4 linked regions of the Homo sapiens genome follow. The protein of the gene in region 4 interacts with the protein of the main gene of each other region in a pairwise test. Each region holds a gene or a part of one and is shown on either strand. Other genes may lie near its edges.

Region 1 (4,040 bases), on a different chromosome or scaffold from region 4:
TACAAAAATGTGTTTTAGGATATTGGTAATTTTCCCTAAAGAAAAGACTAACAATGTAATTTAATATTTGATACACAGGAAAGTTTTTGAAATTTTAAGCATCTGTGTTAAATAAATGAATGGAAGAAAGAGAGAAAGACAAATTAAGTACATCTAAATCTCTCTAATAATTTCTTAATAGGAAAACCTCTTCATAAATACAGGATATATCTATCTAGATATCTATACATACATACAAACGCATATATACTTTAATAGTTTTCTCATGTTATACTTGTAGAAGTGCAGTTTTCTTCCTTTCCCTTGTGTCATTATAGAGAACAGTAGCCACCTTGTTTCCATTTACTTTCAGTAACCATTACCATGGTATATATAAGTTCATAATAACCTCATATTAAATGTGGTGATCGGTGAGAAAAAAATATTTAAACGTAAAGGATATAAGATAAGAGATCACATTTGCCTTGACAGGATGGAGGTTAAAACAACAAAGTTCCAGCTTACTTTATAATCTATTTTATTACCATTAATATAAAAGTAAACAAATAGAATTTTGTCAGTGCACGCAAATAAGAGACATTCAGAAGTCAAGAAGTGTAATTTTAAGACTGCAAAAATTAATGCTATGCCCCTTAATAACAGAACTCTCCAGGCTTATTTTCATGATTCACGCTGTCTACCACAGGCCCTCCTAACTCCAGTGGAGAAGGAGTTTGGGGGTTCTCCAAAAACTTGCAAATTTACATATTAAAACTACTTGACCACAACTACCTTTTTGTAACTGACTGCTTTCAAGTTCTTTGTGTTTAATTCCATCAAAAACTGCATTATAAAACTGGTAAGGTTATTGACAAAGAAACAAGAACAAACTTCCATATTGCAGTTGACTACATTATATAATTTCAAATAAAATAAAATCAATTCATAAAACAAATTTAGTGGTGTGGTTTGGGAAATCTTTAAAATGACGTATTTTTAACTATCATAGTTATTATCATAATTAATTATCAGAGTTATGTTACTTTTCCCTCAAAACAGGCCACAGGCTTATTTTTATTTATTTATTTATTTATTGAGACAGAGTCTCACTTTGCCACTCAGGCTGGAGTGCAGTGGCGCGATCTCGGCTCACTGCAAGCTCTGCCTCCCGGGTTCACACCATTCTCCTGCCTCAGCCTCCTGAGTAGCTGGGACTACAGGCACCCACCACCACGCCTGGCTAATTTTTTGTATTTTTTAGTAGAGACAGGGTTTCACCCTGTTAGCCAGATGGTCTTGATCTCCTGACTTCGTGATCTGCCCACCTCGGCCTCCCAAAGTGCTAGGATTACAGGTGTGAGCCACTGCGCCTGGCCTATTTAAGTAAACCATCTAGAGACCATGGATCTAGCAAACTCATGTCTAACACAGTTGGAACCTAAAACTCAGGTATATAAAGATATTTCAAAGATTTATATACACATAATTCCTAAGAAAGGCCTTATGTAAGAACATACTTACTCTGATTTTAAAAGTCTTACAAGTATCTGTAACACAGTTTAGAACCTTAACAAAAACTAAAATGTTTCCCAGGCTTTAGAGTTTTCAGAAAGTGCATATTAATTCATAGCAAAGGCACCAGGCTCTCCCTCAGGCATGTTATCTTTTATTTTACACAAAATTCCCATGAACTTGGTTGTGTGGATTCTTAACCTGCAGTGAATTACCTAAGAAAGTGAACTGGCTGAGGCAGGCACATTACCAACCAACCTGACAGTAAGTTCAGGTGACAGAAAAGGTATGAGACATAGGTTTGAAAATGGCAAATTGGGGTCATTTAGTGAAGTGGTAAATACTCTTTATTAGCCCCTGGAGACATCAATATATGTGGGTACAATATAATAGGTGAAATTAATGATGATGTTCATTAATGCTTTAAAAAACATTAAAAATATTAAGTATCTTGTTTTAAAAGTAGAGAAATATTTTTAAAGAACTATTTCTATTTCAAATAGTTACAATGAAGTAAGTTTTAGTGCTTAAAAAGATAAGCTTTGATTATGTGGATAATCCATTTGTGTGGACATCTCATTTATTTTCCAATAATGTAGGATAAGATGAGGCGTATCAAAGTAACTCAAAATCAATGGACTAATCAATTTATGTATAATGATATGGTTCATCAGAATAAATGTCATGAATTTAAAAATCACCACCAATTCCTTTATTTTCTATATTATATTCTTTTAAAGTTCCCTTTTCTCCTGTACTTGAGTATGCTATAAAATCATGAACTTTTTCTTTTAGAATATCCAGTTCATTTTGCATCTTTAATATGCTATTATCATACTGAATTCCTTCAAGGGTTTTCTGCATCTCCATTATTTCAGACACTGCTTTCAGCATATCATCTTCCATATTAAACATCTGCATAGTCAAGTCTTCCATTTTCTTTTCTGTTTCTATCAGATCCTGAGAGACTCTGAGAACAGAGTGAATAGCACTTTCAATTGTTGGCAAATGTGTCTTGCATTCTTCAACTTTGGGTTCGTAGTCGGAAAGTTTATTAGTCAGATCTTCATCTCTGGCAAAGAGGGCATGCTGTTCCTCTTCTAACTTTTCAATTGCCTTTGTATCAGAGCCTAGCTGCTCCTCTACTCGCAGGAGATCTTCTTCTTCTTGTCTTTTTACTGTTCTAATATTTCTTAGTGTGCTATCTTCCAAATCTTTTAGCCGTTCAGTGAGCAATTTTATTTCCTGCTCAGCTGAGTTAATTTGGACAGTTACTTGAGAATGTATATGTTTTGCTTCTGATTTGAAAATGTCTGTATTAATGTTCATTTCTTCTAGGCTTCTCTTCCAGAAATCCGTAATATTCTGAAATTTCTCATTAAGGCTTTGCATCCTTTGAGTGAGCACCTCTTCATTATTTTGAATGTCATGCATGATATCTTGGAGGTTGGATACTTCCTGCTCAAACTGGGTCATCAAAGACATGGATGATGTAGCTTCCTGCAGGATGCTTTCAGTAGACTCAAGCTGCATTTATAACACAAAACAATTCCCAAGGCTACTTAATAATTTTCATATTAGAGAAACACACTTTAACAATCAGGAGCATAACACATGCCACGTTAAAATTCTGAAGATGTCTAAAATATCCAAGTATATCAGAATCAGACTGACAAAGATATTTATTACATTAATAGTTTTCACAAATACGTTAACCCTGCATTGTTTTATTTATTTATTTATTTTTTAGACGGAATCTCACCCTGTCACCCAGGATGGAGTGCAGTGGAGCAACCTCAGCTCACTGCAACCTCCGCCTCCCAGGTTCAACGTATTCTCTTGCCTCAGCTTCCTGAGTAGCTGGGATTACAGGTACGCGCCACTATGCCTAGCTAATTTTTGTATTTTTCGTAGAGATGGGGTTTCACCATGCTGGCCAGGCTGGTCTTGAACTGTTGACCTTTAGTGATCCGTCTGCCTCGGCCTCCCAAAGTACTAGAATTACAGGCGAGAGCTGCCGCGCCTGGCCAGCACTATGTTAAAAAAAAAAAAAAATACACCTGAACACACAATCCTAGATATTTCAGCATTTCTATGGAAGCATATACAAGAGAAAAGTAATGTTAAAGTGCCTGAAATAGATGCAATTTCCTCCTTTTAACTCTAATGGTAAGTAACTTTGATGTCAGTTTTCTTTTTCTTTTTTTTTTTTTTTTTGAGACGGAGTCTCGCTCTGTCGCCCAGGCTGGAGTGCAGTGGCGTGATCTCGGCTCACTGCAAGCTCCGCCTCCCAGGTTCAAGCCATTCTCCTGCCTCAGCCTCCTGAGTAGCTGGGACTACAGGCGCCCGCCACCACACCCGGCTAATTTTTTGTATTTTTAGTAGAGACGGGGTTTCACCGTGTCAGCGAGGATGGTCTCGATCCCCTGACCTCGTGATCCGCCCACCTCAGCCTCCCAAAGTGCTGGGATTACAGGCGTGAGCCACCGCGCCCAGCCCTCGATGTCATTTTTATGGTTTTTTGGCTTTTTAGAAACTGCAACTTTGTA
Region 2 (7,164 bases), on a different chromosome or scaffold from region 4:
ATGTAGCCAGGGGAAAGCAGTCCCTGGTGTCCCATTCCCATGCCTTTCCTCCCCTTCTGCCCTTCCTGGGATGAGCTGGCATCCTCTGTCCCTCTGATGACAAACCCTGTTTGCCTTGACCATGCCTCACCAGCCTTTCACCCCTCCTTGCCCTCCTGTCTCTCCCTTCTCTCATCTCCTGCTCCAGGAAGCCTGCCCAGACTGACCCCCCAGCTCTCACACCCTGACCCTTTCCTGTCCCCCACAAGTGCTCCAAGAGCCCAGTGGCTGCTCCTGGTTCTTCTCCATCCCCCCTTAGACCCTGGGATTGTGTCTCTGCCTCAAGGTCAGACTCCCCAAAATGCTAGACAGACTGCACTGTCTCTCAGCAGAGACATTGTATCTGCTATGGCTCCAGGGGCCTCAGCAATAGACCACAACCTCTGGAACAGAGCAGGACACACAGAGGACAGTGCAGCCATCCCCTTGCCCAAGGTAGGTGCTGGTAGATATTCCCAAGTCATTGCCCTTTGTCAAGGCCCTGGATGCTCAATACAAAGGCCTGCATCTGGGCAGTCCTAGCCTGCTGTGGAAAGGTCATTGTGCCCCACGCTGAGGTTGAGACCCCCTGTGTGTCCCCAGGAAGAATCTGTCATTCTGAGATCCCACAGATCTGTGCTTCTCAATCCTGTGTCACTTGCCTTCTTCAGAGCCACAAACTCGTTCTCAGCTGTTGCTCTCAGAGAAACCTCCTCCTCATACCTGAGACAGAGCAGAGGGAAGAGAGGGGAGGTCAGGGCAGGGCAGGTCTCTGCAGAGCCACCATCACATCACACTTCATCACAGCCATGGGGACAGTACTAGAAACACCTCCACACAGCCCCGGCCTGGCAGCCTAGCTTAGTGCTTTCTAGTTGGATGTGGGATGTGTCTGGGATTCTCTATCCACTTTGAACTGGGGATGGAGAGTGCTCATCTGGGACCTCCCAGTCCTGTTCCCAAAGGGGCTCTGAGGTCCCCCAGGAGGCAAATAGGACTCAGCCCCCAGCCCCATCCTGGGAGTGGACAGCGTGGACTCTCAGGGCCTGTAGCCCTAGCCTCCCCTCACTGGTATCAATCCCAGCTCAGGTATGGGGCCTCCTGGACCCGCAGACCCTCAGGACTTAGAACCTAAGGCAGTGGGACACCCAGAGCCCAAGACCTGTCACTCATGAGAGACCCTGGGCTCACATCTGACAGGTGCTACAAGTATAGGGGCTGAGGGTCAGGAGAGAAGGCCTGGACCCTGCAGAGGCTTCCTCCCCACCCAGCGCAGGGGAGAGCTGCTGGGTGATGTGGTTCAGGGAGAGAAGGCTGAAGTGGGACAGAGACAGGTCATGGGAGTCACAGCCCTCCTCTTACACAGGTGTCTGGGCAAAGATTCCACAAAGGAAAAGACCCCGCCACCCTCGGTCAATCTAGTGGTCATGGCCACTCACCCTACCTGGGAGTTCTTATTGTCTAATCCAGTGTATTTAACCTAAACCCCATTCCTGTGCCCAGCATCCCTCTTGCCCGCACTCACTTCTTCTTGTAGCCCTCCAGCACCTCCTGCACGTGGTTAAGCTCTGAGGCCAGCCTCCCGCTGTCGGCCTCCACGCACTCGGCCTCCCGCCGCAGAGTCTCGATGTAGCCCTCAAACAGGGGCTCCAGGTTGCTCTGGCAACACTCGCGGTTCTGGTAGAACTGCAGCTTTGTCTCCAGCAGTTTGTTCTGCTGCTCCAGGAAGCGCACCTGCCATTCGGTGTGGGAAGGTGGGGCAGATGGTGTCTGGTGCCCCAAAGCCAGCTCTGGGGGCTCGCAGGGGAGGTGCTTTAATGGGAACCCCCAAATCTGGAGCTTATCTGAGATTGAGTAGAGGTGGGCAGTGGGAGACAGACAATTTCTGGATTTCCTGGTCATGATCTGTGTCTAGATTTCCCACTCAGGAGTGGAGCAAGGGCTGGGTGGTGTCAGTGCCTGCTCCCTGGGGAGTTGAGTGACCCCCCCCCCCCAACCCAAGCAGATGAACAGAAGTGGAGGCTCAGTCCCTCACTATGAAACTAGGTGATCAGCAACCCACACAGGCAGAGTACTCAGGTTCAGATCACAGATGAGGTTTCTGGGGATGGTGCCAGGAAGAGGGTGTCACAGGCCATCTGGAAGGGAGCTCAGCTGTCCCAGCCCTTCCCCTGTGTCATCTGGAAGTCAGTGCACCCTACTCTCTCACCCTGGGGCTGCCCAAACCCCTCTGAGTTCAGCAGCAGTGGTCACATGCCCCCCTCCCCCAACTCCCTGATGTCTAGCTTGTGCCCCAGAGCAGCCTGGCCACACTTTTCCTTCACAAGCTCCCTCTATCTGAACTGTCAGCTGAGTCTGCATCTTGAGTGCCTGTGTGTGTGTGTCTGTGCATGTGTCTGTCTGTCTGTGTGTCTGTGTGCCTCGCCCATCAGACTGGGATCTCAGGCAGGCAGAGGTCTTTGTGCCTCTGACTCCATCCTTAGTGCCCGGCCCTGGCTGTGTAGGTGGTGGGGGTTCAGGAAGGGTGTGATCCAGGACACCCACCTTGTCGATGAAGGCCGCGAACCTGCTGTTGAGGGACTTGATCTGCTCCTTCTCCTCCTGCTTCACGCACTGCGCGTTGGGGTCGATCTCCAGGTTGAGGGGCGTGAGGAGGCTCTCGTTGACCGACACGGTGGTGATGCATGGGGGACTGGGCCCGCACACGCCCCCGGAGCGGTAGCCGAAGCTGCGTCCGCAGGAGCCGGCCCGAAAGCCTCCGCACACGCTGTGGCTGCCGAAGCCCCCGGTGAGGCCGCGGTAGCAGGAGATGCCACGGTAGGGGGCGGCGGTGATGCAGCAGCGGCCGGGCCGCGGCCCGCAGGCCGAGATGCAGCTGAAGGCGCGCCCACCAAATCCTGATCCGCAGGTCATGATCCTCCTGGACGTTTGGGTTGCAGAGGACAGGATAGGGGACCTGGAGTCCTGATGGAAACTCCAATGTGCTCCTCAGGGCACCGCAGCCCTATTTATGCGCAGATTCTGAAGGGGCTTGGCTGTGAAGATGATGTTGGGGCAATTTGCGCTTTATGGGCTTGGGTGGTTAGCCGGGTCTAACGCCTCTCCAGAATGTGCTTTAATGGGGGAGTGGCCTGCACCCTCTTCTTTGTAAAAGATGTCAGTCTTGGGCTCTGGGGGAGTCAGCATGTTTCATCTTCAAAGTGTCTTGCCAGCAGGGCATTCCTTCATCTGCAGGCATTGGGGAGGGAAGGGGAAGGCAGAGGAGAGGACGAGAAGGAGGAGTAGAGCCTGGCGAGGGGAAGAGAAGGGAGGCCAGGTGCTGGGAGAAACTGGGAGGAGGAGACCTGTGTGTTAAGTGTGATGTGGGGAGAGGGGTTTCAGGAAAGGCTGAGGCATTAATAAATACCATCTCTCATTTCCATCACAGCTGTGGCTAAAGTGCTCCTGAAACACAAATCTGGATTTCCCCATCTCCAGATTTTTCAGTTGGCAGCTGAAAACCATCTCACTTTTCCTACCATGGGAACAGTCAGCAGATTATTAAATATTTGTCTTTTATCTTTTTTATGATGAAAGCTTTCAAATATTGAGGAAAATTGGAATAATACAACACACATGCATTGATGCTCCACCTGTTTACCCCGATTCAACAGTTAACATTATACCATATTTGCTTTCACAGTTGCCCAATTATTTGAGTGGCAGAAAGCATGGCATGTCACCCTTAAATACATCAGCAGGAATTTCTTAAGAATAAGGAGAGTACTATTTTCTTATTCAGGAAAATTAACAATAATTCCAAAGCACCACTTACTATTCATCTCAGATTCAATTTTCCTAACTGTCCTAAGGATTTTAAAACTACATTTTACATAATTTAATTTGTGGCTCTAGCCCTTGTATTTTCTATAAATTAGAAAGTAAATCTTGAGCTGGGATGTCCAATTTGGTAGACAATAGGCAGATGTGGCTACTTAAATTTAAGTTAGTAAAAACTAAATAAGTTAAAAATCTAGTTATTCAGTTGCACTATCCACATTTTGAGTCCTCAGCAGCTACCTGTAAGTAGTGCCTACCTTATTAGACAGTGCATATAAAGAACACTTCTTTATTATTTATTTTTATTTTATTTATTGTTTATTTTCACATAAAATTCTGTTGGACAGCACTGGGCTAGAGGCTGGATTAGGTTTAAATTAAACATTGTTGGGACAGAATACTTCATAAAATATGCTGTGTAACTCTTATTATATCACCCCAGGAAGCATAAAATGTCAGATTGGTGATGCTAAATTGAATCACAGCTGGGCGCAGTGGCTCATACCTGTAATCCCAGCACTTTGGGAGTCTGAGGGGGGTGGATCACCTGAGGTCAGGAGTTCAAGACCAGCCTCAGTGGAGGAGTTTAAGACCAGAGATGGTGAAACCCCGTCTCTACTACAAATACAAAAATTAGCCCGTTATGGTGGCACGTGCCTGTATTCCCAGCTACATGGGAGGCTAAGGCAGGAGAATTGCTTGAACCCAGGAGATGGAGGTTGGATCACTTCAGTACATTTCCCCCTGTATTAGGAAAAACTGTATAGAGAATTAGAATTAGAAAGAACTGTGTAGAGAAACATGGATCTTAGTTTGATAAGAATATGTTTCTTTTTAATTGGTCACCTACTATGTGATCATCATTATATATCGTAAATGATCTCTAATTCTCACATCAATCATATGAAGTATGTGCCATTATCCCCATTTTACTGATGAGGAAACCAAGGGTCAGGGAGGTTAAATAACTTGCCCGAAGTCTCCCAGCTGGTAAGTGATGGAGCCAGGAGTTGCATTGCCTTCTCACTTATAAGCTGTGACAACCCCTTGACTTCCTAATCTTTGGATAAGTTCAAGAGGGTAGTGAAAGTTGTTTACAGGGGAGTATCTGTGAATTTAGGGTGTGAGAGAGTCCATCTAAGGAAGACGGGCAGAGTCAGAGTGGATTGGGATGGTTAGAACCATGAGGGGTCATTTAGGGACACACGGCGATGTGAGGCTACTTGGGGGCTGGGAAGGAGTATGAGTTAGATGTGCAGCACCCCGTGGCTAAGAATTGAAGGACGGGGTGGAAAACATCAGTTTTAGTTATTTGCATACCTCTGGTATATGGCAATACTTTGATAGACTGTACTATGTTCTACTTACCCAGTGAACCACCCCCCACTCCAATAGAGCAGGTCCTAGAAAAATTAGCTCGTAAAGTACAGAGGTTTGCATTAAATTGAGGAGAAGAAAAGAGAAGTGAAATGGCCTGGCTTATAGCCCCCTGGAGCTGCTATGCTTCAAGGGCAAAGGCAGGCAGAGTAGACTTAGGGAATGAGAACAGAAGCAGGATTGATGGGAAAAGAGAGGAGAGGAAAAAAATAGAAGAGAATAGGGCTCTCAGGGTATCTGTGCAAAACATTCAGAGTGTGGCCTTGTGCAGGACAAATGTGGGAGGTCACAGACTGTGTTGAGCTATCTGGTCACCCCAGAGAAGAGTATGGCACCTGCTGTCCCTTTGTGAGTTCAGGGCTGCTGGGCCAGCACTTCTGAAGCTCTTTGTACCCTCATCTGGAATTTGGGGCACTGCTCACAATTGAGCAGTGATGTCCCCAGTAAACCAGCGGTTGGGTGTCCTGAGGAGCACTGTGAGTCAAAGTACATCTCATCCACACTTCACCTTTTCTACCAGTATAACTCCTTATAAAAACAACATGTATAAACACAAGCTAATTACTAATGGCTGGTCCTTACTAAGCAATTTTAAAGATGTAAGAATATGAAAAATTCAAATGTGACACCATTTCATTAAACTTCAGGAATTAATTGCTGCTAATTTTTGAAGACCTAAAAGGACATTCAACTTGTTTTCTTCAGAGTGAAAAAACCTTGTCATGGGGAAGGGAGGAGGGGAGGGAAGGTGGCAGGGAGGAGGGGAGGGAAGATGGCAGAATCTCCACTCTATGGTCTTGGCTCTGGCAAGGTAAAGAGGATAGATTTTAACTTTGTGGAGATAACAATTATTTTTATTGTGAAATATTTCAACACAAAAAATGCATAGGTGGTTAGATCTGTAGCAATACCTACCACTTATAGGAAAAAATAGAACATGTGTGTATTTCAGGAGCTTCCTATGTACCTTGTTCTGATTGTACCCTACTCCTTCCTGGCCTAGGGTGACTCCTCTCTTGCATTTTGTGTTTAATTATTCCTTTGCTTTTCTTACAGTTTTAGAACCAATGCACCCATCTTGCAATGACATATTGTTTCTTTTTCCAGCTTTTGAACTTCACATAAATGGACTCATGTTGCATGGATCCTTGTGCATCTGGTTTCTTTCATTAAATGTTGCTTCCTGTAGCTGTCCTGTGTTCATTTTCACTGTGGATTGCACTCATTGCATGGCTATACCACAGTTTATTTGCCTTTCTACCTCGATAGCCACAAGGTTGTTTCCAGAGTTCTGTAGATTGAACAGAGCTGCTATGAACATCCTTTCTCATGTCTTCTGGTGCATTTATGCAAGAGTTTTTCTGGGGTATGTGGCTATTTTTTTTAAAGTTATGTCAGTAGTAGATGTTTCATGTAGAAAGCTATTTTATGACTATTCTTCCAAACTTAATAATAAAATCTTTTGATGTTCATCTTATACCACACTAGATACTATTTTAAGAGTCCAACATGCATTAACTCATTTAATTTTTACAGTTGCCCTCTGAGGTTGGTGTTATTATTCTCGTTTTATAGATGAGGACACTGAGGTCTAGGGAGGTTAAGGCTCAGGTTGCATGTTAGTAGCAGAACTGGAACCCAGAGCCTGTGTGTCTGATCCCAAAGGAAGGGATGCGTTTGTCCCATTGCACTCCCTTCTGTACACCATCGGCCATCAGTAATAAGTATCACACAGTAGCTGGTGTTTGTACATAACATAAAAACACAAACACTCATCTTGCCCCATGCCCTCTGCAGGGCCCTGCAGGTTGCTCTCAGGGTTCAGGGCCAGAGAGTATAGGAGAGCTCACCCTTGTTCTTGGCAAGCTTCCAGTATTAAGAGAAAAGCAGAGACACATACCCAGATAATGAACAAAAATGGAAACCCTGCAGCACATCAGTGTGTACAAA
Region 3 (7,049 bases), on a different chromosome or scaffold from region 4:
TATATGTACTGCCTTCCACAGAGCAGGTACTCAACAAATACTACTGTGGACACGAATGAAGACGGTGAATCACCTTCATCTCAGTGTGTGTAGAAACTCAGTTTTAAAGATGTATATCACAGCTGTGACAGTGTCATTAGACCTGGGCAAAATGCCACAATTAGCTGCCACCTTACCTCTGCTTTACGAATATTTTCTCTAGCTTCATCTATTTTCTGTTCTAGCTCTGCTCGGCTTTGTTCTGATACAGCAGCTCCATGACACTCCAGATCATTTAGAACCTATTAAAGAAAATGGGACAATAATGATGACTGTTTTTTACTTTTCATCTTCCTTAAGTGATTAAAGTATTTACATAATTCAAAGGGCTTTAGTGACTAGTAGCCATAATTTTTTTTCATTTATTTATTTTTTGAACATTTTGAAATAATTATAGACTTACTAGTAACAAACTTACTACAGACAGTCCCTTCAGTGGGGAAGCCAGGACCAGCCACTATCTGATTGCCGCCACATGAGAGACCCCAAGGGAAACTGCTAAGCTGAGACCATCCAATACTCAGATTAGTGAGAGATAATGTAAAAACCCTCTTGTTCTATGGCATTAAGTTTGAGGTGGTTTGTTAAGCAACATTACATAAGTGGAACACTGAATTTGAGACACCTGTGAGATAGTGAAAAGAAGATGTCAAAACAGGCAAGAGATTATATGGATACACAGTAGTAGCAAGGCCCAATGTTGAAGATGTTAATTTATGATTTGGTGGTAAAGTAAAACCATGGAAGTGACTGAGAATGCCTATATGAGGGTAAAGAATAAGAAAACAAGATAGCCAAGTATAGGAATCTGAGAAACTGAATATTTCATTGTGGGATGGAGAAAGAGGAACCCATGAAAAAATCTAGGTATGGCCAGAAAGGCAGAAGGAAAGCCAGGACAATGTTGAATCGTGGATGACTAGAGAAGATAACATTTTAAGACATGGAATTGTTAATTGTGATGAAATTGTTGACAGATTAAGAAAAATGAGAAATCAAAGTGTCCACTTGGAAGCTAGCAACACAGACATCATTGGCGATTTTGGTAAGCTTAGACAGGGGAAGGAAAGGACAGGAAAGCTCAAATGTAATGGGCTAAAAAGTAAGTGGGAGGTGAGATTCTATAGATAATAAGCATAGGCAATTCTTTTAAGAAGCAGGATGTGAAGGCAAAGAATGAGACGGATATAGGTATCAATAAATGAAACAGAAAAAAAGTACTATACTCCAAATAATTTCTTTGTGCTTAGAGTTTAGTCTTCGAGATATATTTTCTTTCTTTCTTTCTTTCTTTTTTTTTTTTGGAGACAGGGTCTTTCTCTGTCACCCAGTCTGGAGTTCAGAGGCATGATCTTACCTCAATGTAACCTCCACCTCCCGGGCTCAAGCAATTCTCCCCAACCTTAGCCTCCCGAATAGGTGGGAAGATAGGTGTGCGCCCCCATGCCCGACTAATTTTTGAATTTTTTGTAGACACCGGGTTTTTTGCCATGTTGCTCAGGCTGGTCTCAAACTCCTGGTTCAAGCAATCCACTTGCCTCAGCCTCCCAAAGTTCTGGGATTACAGGCGTGAGCCACTGCGCCCAGCCAAACATATATTTTCATGAAATCTATAATTGTGTCTTTCTTTTTTCTTTTTATTGAGACAGAGTCTCGCTGTCGCCCAGGTTGGAGTGCAGTGGCGTGATCTCAGCTCACTGCAAGCTCCGCCTCCCAGGTTCATGCCATTCTCCTGCCTCAACCTCCCGAGTAGCTGGGACTACAGGTGCCCGCCACCACACTCGGCTAATTTTTTGTATTTTTAGTAGAGATGGGGTTTCACCGTAACACATGTTAGCCAGGATGGTCTCGATCTCCTGACCTTGTGATCCACCCACCTCGGCCTCCCAAAGTGCTGGGATTACAGGCGTGAGCCACCGCGCCCGGCTATAATTATGTCTTTTAAAAAATATGTCTTGAGGGATGAAAACTTATATTAATTCAACATATGTCTCTTCCCCTGCCCATAATACACTATCACAATTTTCTTTGTTAATTTTATGGTAAACAGGTAAATTAATGTATTGCTGATGGAGGGCTTAAGGAAATTCCAACATGAGTAGATAGCTGACAGCACACTGCTGAGTGTTGAGAAAGTACAGAAAAAACACATATAATGCTTGAGCAAAGGAGTTTGAGACCAGCCTGGGAAACATGGCAAGACCCTATCTCTACAAAAAATCTAAAAAAATTTAGCCAGGCATAGTGGCATGTGCCTGTGGTCCCAGCTACTTGGGAGGCTGAAGTGGGAGAACTGCTTCAGCCCAGGAGGTTGAAGCTGCAGTAAGCCATGTTCACACCACTGCCCTTCAACCTGGGTGACAGAGCAAGCCTCTTGTCTCAAATAAAACAAAACAACACATATAGGATATTTTTCACATTAATAAAACTCAGTTCCTTAAACTGTTTGACATTTGGCTTAAGGTGAATGTAACTAGGACTTTCTCTTACACTTACCCGTTGTTGGTGAACAATGTTTTTATGCTCACGTGCCACACGTGTGGCCCATTTTCGAGCTTCCTTATTTAGACTGTGCTCCTCTGTGGTCCCAGTTTCTGATTCTAACTGTCGGCTCTACAATACAAGAGAGAACAGAGATAAAAATATTGCTATCCTTATTGTAACCACTACTGCTTTGTAGATGGATCAGAAGGCCTTCACTTAATCAGCACTCAAAACATGAGGCACGCTCCACTACTGCTGGAAGCAATGTCTTAACGTCACAGAAAGTTACCAGAAGAGTAAGATCAGCATAAAACCATTAAAGACCATAAGCTTTTTGTCTTACACTGCTGAACACAAAAGCATCATCTATAATACTGCAGACTTATCTTTTTGGGTGTGATGGACTTATCTTTCCGAGTGGGAAGGAAGCTAGCTAAGGTAAGCAAAGAAGAAAATGTATTCATGCCAACCTACTATGGTGATAAAATCATTGCATAAATAAAAATGGAAACAACTTAATAGTTTAAATGTGAGTAAAGAATCATTAAAGAGAAGTAAGAACAAAACAATATAATAACAGCAACACAATCTTGCACCCCTCCCCCTGCCCCAAGGCAGACGGAACTCTTTAGAGGTCCACCATCAACTTGCCACCAAACCTCAAAAGCCAGCTTTTGCTCTTTCTCCAGGCTTCATATGAAAGATAAGGGTGCTAGATCAAATGATCACCAAGGGTTTCTTCTAGCTCTAAAATGCTATGATTCTGATTTACAAAGAACAAACCACAAAATCTAAATAAAAATAGTAATAGCTAACTTCTATTGTGCAAGGTACTATGGAAAGTGCTTCATATAACTTTTTTTTTTTTTAACAACCTGATGATGTGGGTCCCACATCATTTTATAGAAAAGAAAACAGAGGCTCAGAGAGGTTAATTTTTCCTGGATGTCCTAGATGTTAAATGTTACAACCTTAATTGACCGATTCCAGAATCAGAGCTATTAAACACAAAACTATTTTAATTCTCTCTAAATTCTTAAAGACCCAAGAAAAACAAACTTTATTGAGATAATTAGGAATTTTTTTTAAAATATAAATTACCCAAAGAGGCTTTTAATATAGAAAGCAGCAAAATTGTAGAATGAAAAGAATTTTAGAAATTCTGATCACGGCTCACTGCAGCCTCAACCTCCGGGCTCAAGTGACTCTCCCACTTCAGCCTCCTGAGTAGCTGGAACTACAGGTGTGTGTCACCATACTCAGCTCATTTTTTTTTTTCCTTCTAGAGATAAGGTCTCACTATGTTGCCCAGGCAACATAGGAGTTCAACATCTTGAACTCCTTGGCTCAAGTAATCCTCCCACCCTGGTCTTCCAAAGTGTTCAAATTAGAGGGATGAGCCAGTACACCTGGCCTAGTAATTCTTTTGCAAGGTCTCATAGCTCAAAATTGATAGAGTAAGTAGAAATTGATAAACTGGATTTTAAAAATTAATATTTTTGTTGGGGGAATTGTGATGAGGCAGGGTTTAAAAATTTTTGTTCTATACAGACATTTCAGCTAGATTATAACAATGACAAATAAATTGAAATAGAGCAAAATAATCAATATTCAAACTTAACCATCTTTACATTCATATTTTACATTCTAATTCATTTTTGGGGTTATCAGAAGTTTGGGAATGAACTTTACTATTATATTTTGCTTTGCAAATGAATCTGGGCATTCAAACTTACATCTGTTCTCAAAGTCAGGAATATTAAAGTGTTAAACTCTGGACACAGATACAAATGAAATATACAAAAGTCAGAGGAATGTGATCTGTAAAAGTAGAAAGATAAATTCTGAAGAGTCCAAGAATAGGTTTTTGAGTCAGATAGACTTAGTTTGAATCCATTGTATGCCATTTTATGGCACTACTAGCTTTATGATCTTGGGCATGTTAATTATCTGAGTCGTAGCTACATCTGAAAACTAGTGAAAATGTCACCTATCTCCATAGGGTTGGTAGGTTATAATGAGGTCATATTTTAAACATTCTGGTATAGGATCTACATAATATCTTAGGCATCCAGTAATGGTAACTGTTAATGTTAAAGACCCAATTGAAAATTACTTGAAACAAAAATTTTCTTATTACTGTTCATAAGAAAATCCAGATAATTCCTAGGTTCTTAATAGCCTAAACAATGAATCCAAAATGAAGATTGAAGATATATTGAAAGATTAAGGCAGATCTCAAAGAGAATGAATTTGTAGGGAGTAGCTAGATGAGAAAGGAGGCAACTGATAGAGACATTTAATTTTTGTTACTGAGCAGCATTTTAGGAATAGGTAAAGGGGTTTAAATTGTGTGCTGGCTGCAGATGGGCCATAACCCAATTTGCCTTACAGAATTTATACCTTCTTATTGAGTATTCACTGTGCTCAGGATAGAGCTTTTCCCTTATTTTTTATGTGTCTACTAAGACTTGGGAGTCCAATGATCAGGACAGGTAACTAATGCCACTGATTGGAAGATGTGGCTTTGAGATCCTTTGGGTAGGGAATGACACAAAACTAAAACTCAAATTAATTTATCCTTTTCATGAATTCTGAAATCAAGCCATGGAATACATGTGGAAGCTCCTGAGACACAGGTCTTGACAACTGAGAATTTCATACAAGGTGAATACAGCCCAGGCTATTAAACAATACACAGAGAAATGTTCCAATACCACCTTCACTATCAAAGATCAATATAAATCAGGATCTAGTATAGATAATTATGTTTTTGTGTTTTTGTTTGTTTTGTTTTTTGTTTTTTGAGACAGAGTCTCACTCTGTTGGCCAGGCTGGAGTGCAGTGGCATGATCTCAGCTCAGTGCAACCTCCACCTCCTGGGTTCAAGTGATCCTCCTGCCTCAGCCTCCCAGGTAGCTGGGACTACAGGCATGTGCCACCATGCCCAACTAATTTTTTGTATTTTTAGTAGAGACGGGGTTTCACCATGTTGGCCAGGATGGTCTCGATCTCTTGACCTCGTGATCCACCCGCCTCGGCCTCCCAAAGTGCTTGGATTACAGGTGTGAGCCACCGTGCGTGGCTGGTAATTTTTTTTTTAAGACAGTGATATTAGCAGTGGTCGATTCTAACAAAGAAACCGTAATGACTGCTTCTTTTTAAAATGCTGGCAAATTTATTTTTATTTTTAATTTTTTGAGACAGAGTTTCACTCTGTCACCCAGACTGGAGTGCAGTGGCATGATTTTAGCTCACTGCAACCTCTGCCTCTCGGGTTCAAGAGATTCTCATTCCTCAGCCTCCGGAGTAACTGGGATTACAGGGCATGTACCACCATGCCCAGTTAACTTTTTGTATTTTTAGTAGAGATGGGGGTTTTGCTATGTTGGCCAGGCTGGTCTCGAACTCCTGTCCTCAAGTGATCCACCTGTTCTTGGCCTCCCAAAGTGCTGGGATTACAAGCATGAGCCTCCACGCCTGGCCTAGATCATTCTTTTAACATTTTTCTTTTTGGAAGACAGGTTCTCACTCTATTGCCCAGGCTGGAGTGCGGTGGTGCAATCATGGCTCACTGCAGCCTTGACCTCCCAAGCTCAAGCAATCCTCCCACCTCAGCATCCCAAGTAGCTGAGACCACAGCATATGCCATCACACGCAGATAATTTTTTTGATTTTTAGTAGAGATGAGATCTCACTATGTTGCCTAGGCCATCTCAAACTCCTGGCCTCAAATGATCCTCCTGCCTTGACCTCCCAAAGTGCTGGGATTAGAGGCATGAGCCACTATGCCCAGCCCAATATTTTTCCTTTATCTTTTAAAAATGTATTTGATACAAAAATTAGCTAGGCGTGGTGGCGCCGGAGGTTGCAGTGAGCCAAGATCGTGGCACTGCACTCCAGCCTAGGCTACAGAGGGAGACTCTGTCTCCAAAAAAAAAAAAAACTCTAGTCCCTTTAGAATAAAATATTACAATAAAGTCTTTTCAACATTCATAAAGTTATTAAATAACTTTGAAGAACTAAATTAAGGAAATCAGCATTCCAATATTCTTGATATATTAGTCTTTAAGTCATCTTAACTATTTTGTCCTTAGATGCTCTCTCAAGATATGATTTTGTTTTATTTTAAGGTTAATACAAAGGCATAGAAGGCTCAGATATCTGAGCAGAGTGAGCAGCGATAGAAAAGCTGACTTCGCAGAAGAAAACAATCAGTTTTTTAACTCTGTAACTAAAATATAACCATTTCAAGGAGAGAAAAAGAGATGGTCATGTATGATGAATGAAAATCACTAACAGTAAAATACTAGCATTCCAAACCATTTCAAAAAAAGATAGTGTTGGGGTTGTTAGGCCAATGGCATAACATTCTAGTTAACCCTCATTCAGGGAATTTGTACTACTTACATTTTTCAGTTTACTGAGAGACAAGAAATATACTGGGGCTGGGCACAGTAGCTCACACTTACAATCCCAGTGTTCTGGTAGGCCAAGGCAGAAAAACTGCTTGAGGCCAGGAGTTT
Region 4 (7,049 bases):
TCAGACACATAGTGCATGCTCAGAAAGTATTTGTCAAATGAATGGATACACTTTCTAGGACACTATGAATTAGGACAATGGACTGAAAAATAAGCAGAAAATTTAAACACACCAGTGACCACAGTGCAACTGCAACTGACGATCAGTTTCCACCAAACTGCAACAGAGAGAGTGGCTTTGCCGGTGAGTTCTGTCAAACTACTGTGTTATTTAAACATTATTTGGCCTTACAACTAAGGTGAGGCCCTTGGGCCTCTACTGAAGGCCCAATGTGTTCAACAAGGGCTCTCCATGCTGCCTAAGGGAACACATCTGATTTGCAGCCCTGAATGAACTCTGGGACTCATTCATCATGCATGTACTTTCCTCAGAAGTTGCTCTTACCCAGCCTTGCGGGGCTGCAGCCAGATCTCCCACGAGTGGTAATGTAACATGAAAACAATGAGCCACATCTTCAAAATTCCAAAGGAAAATGACCCTCAACCTAGAGTTTCCTATCTAGGCAAGTATTAATCAAGTGTAAGGGCAGAATAATGACACTTCCAGATGAGAGGTATACAAATTTACCTTACCTGCACCCATTTACAAGAAGCTAGTGAAGGTTGTGCTCTTTAAAACATGATGGAATTTACCAAGAAAGAGGAGGACTTGGCTTAGGAAAGAGAAGATCCAGTAGAGAAGGGGAGTGACAGGAATCTGCAGGAAATGATGAAGGGCAATCCCAGGATGTTAGCTGCACACCAGAGATGAGGAGACAGACTAGGACCCCTGCTCCATTAGACCTCCAGGTCCCAAACACCAGGTGAGCCAGGGCCTTGGCCTGTCTTGCCCATGGCTGATGAAGTGTTGTACTCTCTATCAAACCCTGCAGTCTGGGCCAGCTGAGGACTCTCCTTGGAACCCAAAGAAGCAGTTTGTTTCCACCTACTCCCAAGAGCTGAAGGTAAGCTTTGGTGATCTTAGAATAGGAAAATCTGGGCAGCCCGTTCTCTTGGCCCTAGCTCTCTTGGGCCTGCCCAGAAGAGCTCTGCCAGATGCCATGGATCTGAGGGTTTTTCTATCTCCCAGGATGATTCAGGACCTCACCCACTGATTGGGCCCTTGTATATTCAAGGGAGCTGAAGCTGGGGTCCTTTTTCTGGAAGTCTTTATTCAAAAGTGGTAATATTGCCCTTTGCTCAGCTGGATTTGAATAATTTGCTACTCAGTTTTTCAAAGCTGAATATATTATTTAAGGATACTATTATGAAATGAATGTTTGTATTCCTTCCTCCCAAATTTCATATGTTGAAGCCGTAACCCCCAGTATGGCTATATTTGGAGACTGGGTCTTTAAGGAAGTAATTAAGGTTAAATGAGATCACAAGGTTGGGGCCTTCATGACGGAATTAGTGTCCTTATAAAAAGAAACACTGGAGCACTGGTGCTCTCTCCCCGACTCTCCTCGTGCGAGCACTAAGGAAACGCCACATGAAGACATAGTGAGAAGCGGGACATCTAAAGCCAGGAAGAGGGCCTTAACTGAAGCCAAATGCCTAGAACCTTGATCTCGGACTTCCTAGCCTCCAGAACCATGAGAAAATAAATAAGTGTTGTTTAAACCGGCAGTCTGTGGTATTTTCTTATGGCAGCCCAAGCAGACGAATGTAGCTACATATAAAGACAGGGAGCTGTGAGGGAAAGCAAGGGAATGACTGGCCTAAAACCCAAGACGGTGGTGGTTTCTGGTGGGCAGGGCGAGGGGATATGATTGTGAAGGGCCCAAGGGTGTTCCAAGGAGTACTCATCCACTGTTTCTTAAGCAGGCTACTGGGTACATAGGTGTTCCTTTCATTATAATTCTGGAAACGGTTTTATGTTTTTTTTTTAATTTTTTGAGACAGAGTCTCACTCTGTCACCCAGGTTGGAGTGCAGTGGCACGATCTTGGCTCACTGCAACCTCTGCCTCCTGGGTCCAAGCGATTTTCCTGCCTCAGCCTCCTGAGTAGCTGGGATTACAGGCACATACCGCCATGTGCGGTTAAGTTTTGTATTTTTTAGTAGAGATAGGGTTTCACCATGTTGGCCAGGCTGGTCTCAAACTCTTGACCTCAGGTGATCTGCCTGCCTTGGCCTCCCAAAGTGCTGGGATTACAGGTGCGAGCTGCCATGCCCAGCTGTTTTATGTGTGCTTTATATACACATATAGTAATTCACAATTTTAAAGAAATCAGATAAGATAGACTTTAAAGAGTTAAAATTACCTTCATATTTTCTCTTAGAATCCTCTTGCTTTGGTAGTTTATTCACACAGTGAGGAATTTCATGATTTATTTCAGTTGATTTTTCTTTATGATCGATGTTTCCTGTTGCCTTTTTACCCTGTAATTTAGAAAAGCAGCAAAAACACATTTTGGGGGGTCTAGATAACTTAAAATTGCATTTTATTCTAATGACTACAAATACTTTTCACATAGAACAAGTGACTGTAGCCTATTTTTGTTAAGACATGTTTAATCAGACACTGCAAGATTCCAAATTTGCTGTACCTTAGTTGTCAAAGGTGGAACATCTGATTTTTGGGTTCCCTGGTGTCTCATACTTGTGAATGGCAAAATTTTTCTGTCTGCTTGGACTGATTTTGTTGAAGAAACTATGGAACAGGTAGATTATATGTAAGAAACATATTTTACATTTGGATACAATATTGATTTTAAACATAAAATAACTTTTATGCAATGTAATAATAAAGTATACTAAGTATTTTCTAAATATTCAATATATATATAAGCATTTGTTAGTTTCCTGTTTTTCCCTCCAGGGCCCTTGCTTTGTCTTACTTTGGGCCTCACAGTGTTTGAGTATAAAACAAGTAGGTGTTAGGATAAGACATTGTTGCTGTTGGAGGACAAGGCTGTCCTTTGTGGATGGGATTCAGCAAGGTAGACGTGTAATTGTGAGAGGCCAGGCCACCGAGCTATCCTGTGGCGGAGCTCTTGATTATCAGTGGTTAGACTGTCCATGCTGAAGCGCATGACCACTAAATCTAGACTGCACTTTCCTGAAAAGTGAAGGAAATTATATCATTTAAACAACCCCTCGGTTGATTCATTGTCTCTATTATTCTAGATTATAAGCCAGAAGCAAACAAAGGCAGGCAAGGAAATTTGAGGTTGTTGCATCTGGAAGTAAACATGTAGCTACTTCTTCTAATAAAACAGAGGTGAGTATTCCTATGGTACTTCTGAGTCGAATCTGTTGCTGGGAGATTTTGGGGGGAAAGCAGTGCACGTGCTCTTGAAGAAAAGAAGACCTCACCAATGAGAGGTATACACTAATGATAGTGGCATCAATATAGATGAATCTCAAAAACACTATGCTGAACAAAAGCAGCCAGATACAAAAGGGTGCAGCTGTGGGATTCCACTTACATGAAATTCTAGAACAGACAACCTAGGCTATTGTGACCAAAGGAAAGTCAGTGGTTGCCTCGGGTGAGGTAGGGGACTACTGACTGCAGGGGACACGAGGAAACTTCCTGGGGAGGTGGAAATATTCAATATCTTGATTGGGGTGGTGGCTCCATCGGTATAAACATCTGTCAAAACCCACTGAGCTGCGTGCACACTTAAAATGGATGCATTTTATTGAGGTCAAGTATACCCCAATAAAGTTCATTTTGAAAAGCCATACACTGGCTAACAGATACACTTAGAAAGTTCACTTTTTGGCAGACATTTTGCTTCAAGCTGAAGTTATCCTTTTGCTCCACCTGAAGAAAGGACATAAAGGGGTGTGCTGAGGATGGGAGAACGGGAAAGCATTTCTATTCCTTGCTAGCCATGTCACCATCTCAGTCTCGTTATTCTTCTAGAATCACAAAATGTATTTTAATGCCTAATGAAGTGATTTTTGAAAATATCCATTATTTTGTCTATATAAATTAGGAAAATCTGACTAGATACTTAAAAATAGATTTTGAGCAAAAGTAATTAAAACATACCTTTTGGATAGTCCTCTGTGTCATGTAAATTTTTAAGTATTCGATGACTATAGATGTTTTTAATTTCAAGCTCACGATCCTTTTCCTAAAAAGAACCACAAAACCAATTTTTCTATAAATGCTTGCTTTTGTCAACCCTGATTTCTTTTAAAAACAATTTAAATGAGCTCAGTATCCTATGAATAAAATCTGTAGATTTTAGAAGAAACAGAAATAGGCCATATCATCCTATACCATTCCTGACATCGAAAAGTACTAGCTCTTTAAACAAAGTGACACATTATTGTGATCGGGACAGTATTTTTGAAGAGCCTTGCAGGTCAGCTTGTCCACTGTTTTCCTTCTGTCCTGTGGGCCTTGAAGTTTATGAAATATTCTTCTGTACTGTGCATTACAGTAGCCACTAACTATATGTTGTGATTTCATTTAAATGAAAGTAAAACTAAAATTTAGGTCGTCAGCCACACTATTTGTATTTCCAATAGGCGGTCAGCAGCTGTGTGTGACTAGTGACTACAGTATTGGATGGCACAGGTGAACATTTCCACCATCTAATAGAAAGTTCTATGAGACAGGGCTACGTCTAGACAAGGGCCGGGGGGGAAGCCTAGAACAAGGGTATCATTGTTCCATTTTAAATTTCATATTGATTTTTTTGAGTCTTGGCAAAACAGACATTTTGAAACCTTAACTTGTTGAGGAACAAAGAAAGGGTTTTTATTAAATATCAAATGCTCCTTCTTACATGTACACCAGGAGGCAAGAAAGGCTTTGGACTCAAGACCATTGAATTTTAGTAACAACCATGGTTAAGAGAGGTGGGCATATATGAAGTAAGGAGGAAGGAACCCAGGGATGTCAGAGTGTGACAGACGTGCATGTGCACACACACACACACACACGGGGGGTGGGGCGGGGAGAGAGAGCTCTTGTCTCCTTGTGCCCCTTAGGGTCAAATCTATGGGCCAAGGGATATTCAGGGGGTGAGAAACATCTCTGAGGTTTGGGAAAGTCTCAGTGCAAGAGGCCTTGGCGTGGTCCAGGAAAATTGCAAGCCCCTTAAAAAGCGCCTCCCCCGCCGCCCCATTCATCATGGAGCTAAAGTAACATGGTATTGCCCAAGTGTAAGTTAGAAAGGGCTAAATACCCTCTCTAGGCCAGAGATTGTGCTTCCCTTACCCTTGCAACCAGTGGGACCTGTGGAGGGAGCTGCACCTGCCCTGGAGTCCTTAAGGTTACAGATCCAGGTGCTCCCATAGCACAGGCTTTGCAACAGAGAATCTAGCCAGGGATCAGATGGAGGATGCATCTCAGAGCATTTGCATCAACAGTCAGCAGGGGACAATCACCAGGATTTATTTGACCAGACTGAGAAGAGGCCAGGAGTTTTAGCAGCCACATTCAGTACACATCAGACAGGGTCCTGGGAATTTGATTTAAGACTAGTCACTCGTCAGGAGAACCAGCTCTAGAGAGGGGCCAGAGGGCAGAACACAGACCAGAGGCCTCTTTTTCACTCCACCAAGAGTACACATATGTTTTCTCTCATGCCCAGGATGCCATCTCCACTGAGACAGAAGATAGGGATGAGGAAAAAGTCTGCAAGTCTAAGAGACAACCTAGCATAAGACTGTTTTGAGTTAGAAGAGACTGAGACAAGCTTTTATCCATTTCTTCTTGTCCAACTGCCATCCTCATCCCTAATTTGTGGGACTGGGGCTCATAAGGAAGTATGGCTTAGTTACAGAAAATAAAGAACATGACATATTTTTGTACCTGAATTGTACAGTGTAAATTTTCTACTCATTTGAATCATAAAATTAGTTTATTATCAGAGGTACACAAAGGGATAAAACATGAGAATATTAATCTTTTCTAGAATTTAAGTTTCTGGAGGCAAAAATGTTAACAGTTCATCTCTCTTTTCTTATTGTGGTAACAGCCAAAAGAACAGTAAATGCTGACAGTTCATCACCATGAAAAGTTGATCAGGTGTATTCTGGATAATAGCTTTCAGATGAAGGATACTGTGTAAAACATTTTAGAATGAGTTTTCATCCACACTGGTTAGGAAACATTTTCATGTTTACAGGGACACATTTTGATTACCTGAAAAATTCAGTTCTATCTTTTGATTTGGTCTGGACACCTGGAGGTCAGCAACCGAGAGCAGGAAGGAGGCACAGCAACAACAGAACAACAACAAGAGGCTGCGACAGGGGCGGCGTGGGTCAAAAGGAAGCAACCTGGAGGACGGTCCTCCTTGCGGCTTGGAGCAGAGCTTCAGGTTGGGCACCACGACAGAGCTGGGCCAGAAGTCTAACACAGCCTGTTTGGAACACAACCCGGGATACTTGTGTGGTTGGGTTCAGTCAGTCAAGGGAAACAAGAAGCTAACCCGTGGCTGGGAGTGTTCATGCAATGCTCGTGGAATACTCAGCGCAAAGCCTGCCCGCAAGCACAAAGGGTATCAAGGAAGAGTTAAATGGGAAGTTGGGTCATGGTGTGGAATCATATTAAGGTCAGCATTGATGGCTTCCGGAACTTAGATAGAAAGCAGTGTCTTAATGCAGGAGTGTGACCGTAGCCTGGGTGTAAGACGGGTGGCAGTACCTCACGTGGGAGCTGTGGAAGGCTGACATCCCTCTTCTTACTTCGGCTCATACTGCAGAAGTGGGCCTAGAACTCGGTGTGGGATGACTTTGAAAATGAGTTTCAAAGTAAAGAAACGAACTTTTGACCTTTGGGACCAGACTCTTCCAAGCTCAAACTATGACTTTCGTTAATGTGGCAGACTGTATTTTCCTAGAATTCCCACGACAAGATTTCTAGTCCTATATGCTCTTCAACAACCTCGTGACTCGCTACCAAAAGGTGGAGTTCACTGCTTGAACTGCCTAGGACTGCCCTGACAAATGCTGTGAGGCAGAAGTGATGCTGCGTGACTGCCAAGGCTAGGTCATAAAAGGCAGTACTGCATCTGTCTGGTTCTCTCCCTCTCTCTCTCTCTCTCTCTCTCTCTCTCTGTGTGTGTGTGTGTGTGTGTGTGTGTGTGTGTGTGTCTGT

What was found.
Region 1: the proteins of LCA5L (region 4) and IKBIP interact in binary tests that used the Homo sapiens proteins (3 or more experiments, as listed by UniProt).
Region 2: the proteins of LCA5L (region 4) and KRT81 interact in binary tests that used the Homo sapiens proteins (3 or more experiments, as listed by UniProt).
Region 3: the proteins of LCA5L (region 4) and FCHSD2 interact in binary tests that used the Homo sapiens proteins (3 or more experiments, as listed by UniProt).

What each region holds. Positions count from the first base shown.
Region 1 is NC_000012.12:98,623,749-98,627,788, forward strand, and holds the end of IKBIP (inhibitor of nuclear factor kappa-B kinase-interacting protein), read right to left. Parts: intron 3,019-4,040; coding exon 2,182-3,018; 3' UTR 501-2,181; downstream 1-500. UniProt on the Homo sapiens protein: Target of p53/TP53 with pro-apoptotic function.
Region 2 is NC_000012.12:52,288,535-52,295,698, forward strand, and holds the start of KRT81 (keratin, type II cuticular Hb1), read right to left. Parts: upstream 3,001-7,164; 5' UTR 2,932-3,000; coding exon 2,563-2,931; intron 1,753-2,562; coding exon 1,544-1,752; intron 742-1,543; coding exon 681-741; intron 1-680.
Region 3 is NC_000011.10:72,887,294-72,894,342, forward strand, and holds part of FCHSD2 (F-BAR and double SH3 domains protein 2), read right to left. Parts: intron 2,653-7,049; coding exon 2,536-2,652; intron 282-2,535; coding exon 177-281; intron 1-176. UniProt on the Homo sapiens protein: Adapter protein that plays a role in endocytosis via clathrin-coated pits. Contributes to the internalization of cell surface receptors, such as integrin ITGB1 and transferrin receptor.
Region 4 is NC_000021.9:39,407,735-39,414,783, forward strand, and holds part of LCA5L (lebercilin-like protein), read right to left. Parts: intron 6,313-7,049; coding exon of another isoform or gene 6,070-6,312; exon of another isoform or gene 5,790-6,069; intron 4,069-5,789; coding exon 3,984-4,068; intron 3,204-3,983; exon of another isoform or gene 3,110-3,203; intron 2,634-3,109; coding exon 2,530-2,633; intron 2,363-2,529; coding exon 2,245-2,362; intron 944-2,244; exon of another isoform or gene 872-943; intron 184-871; exon of another isoform or gene 59-183; intron 1-58.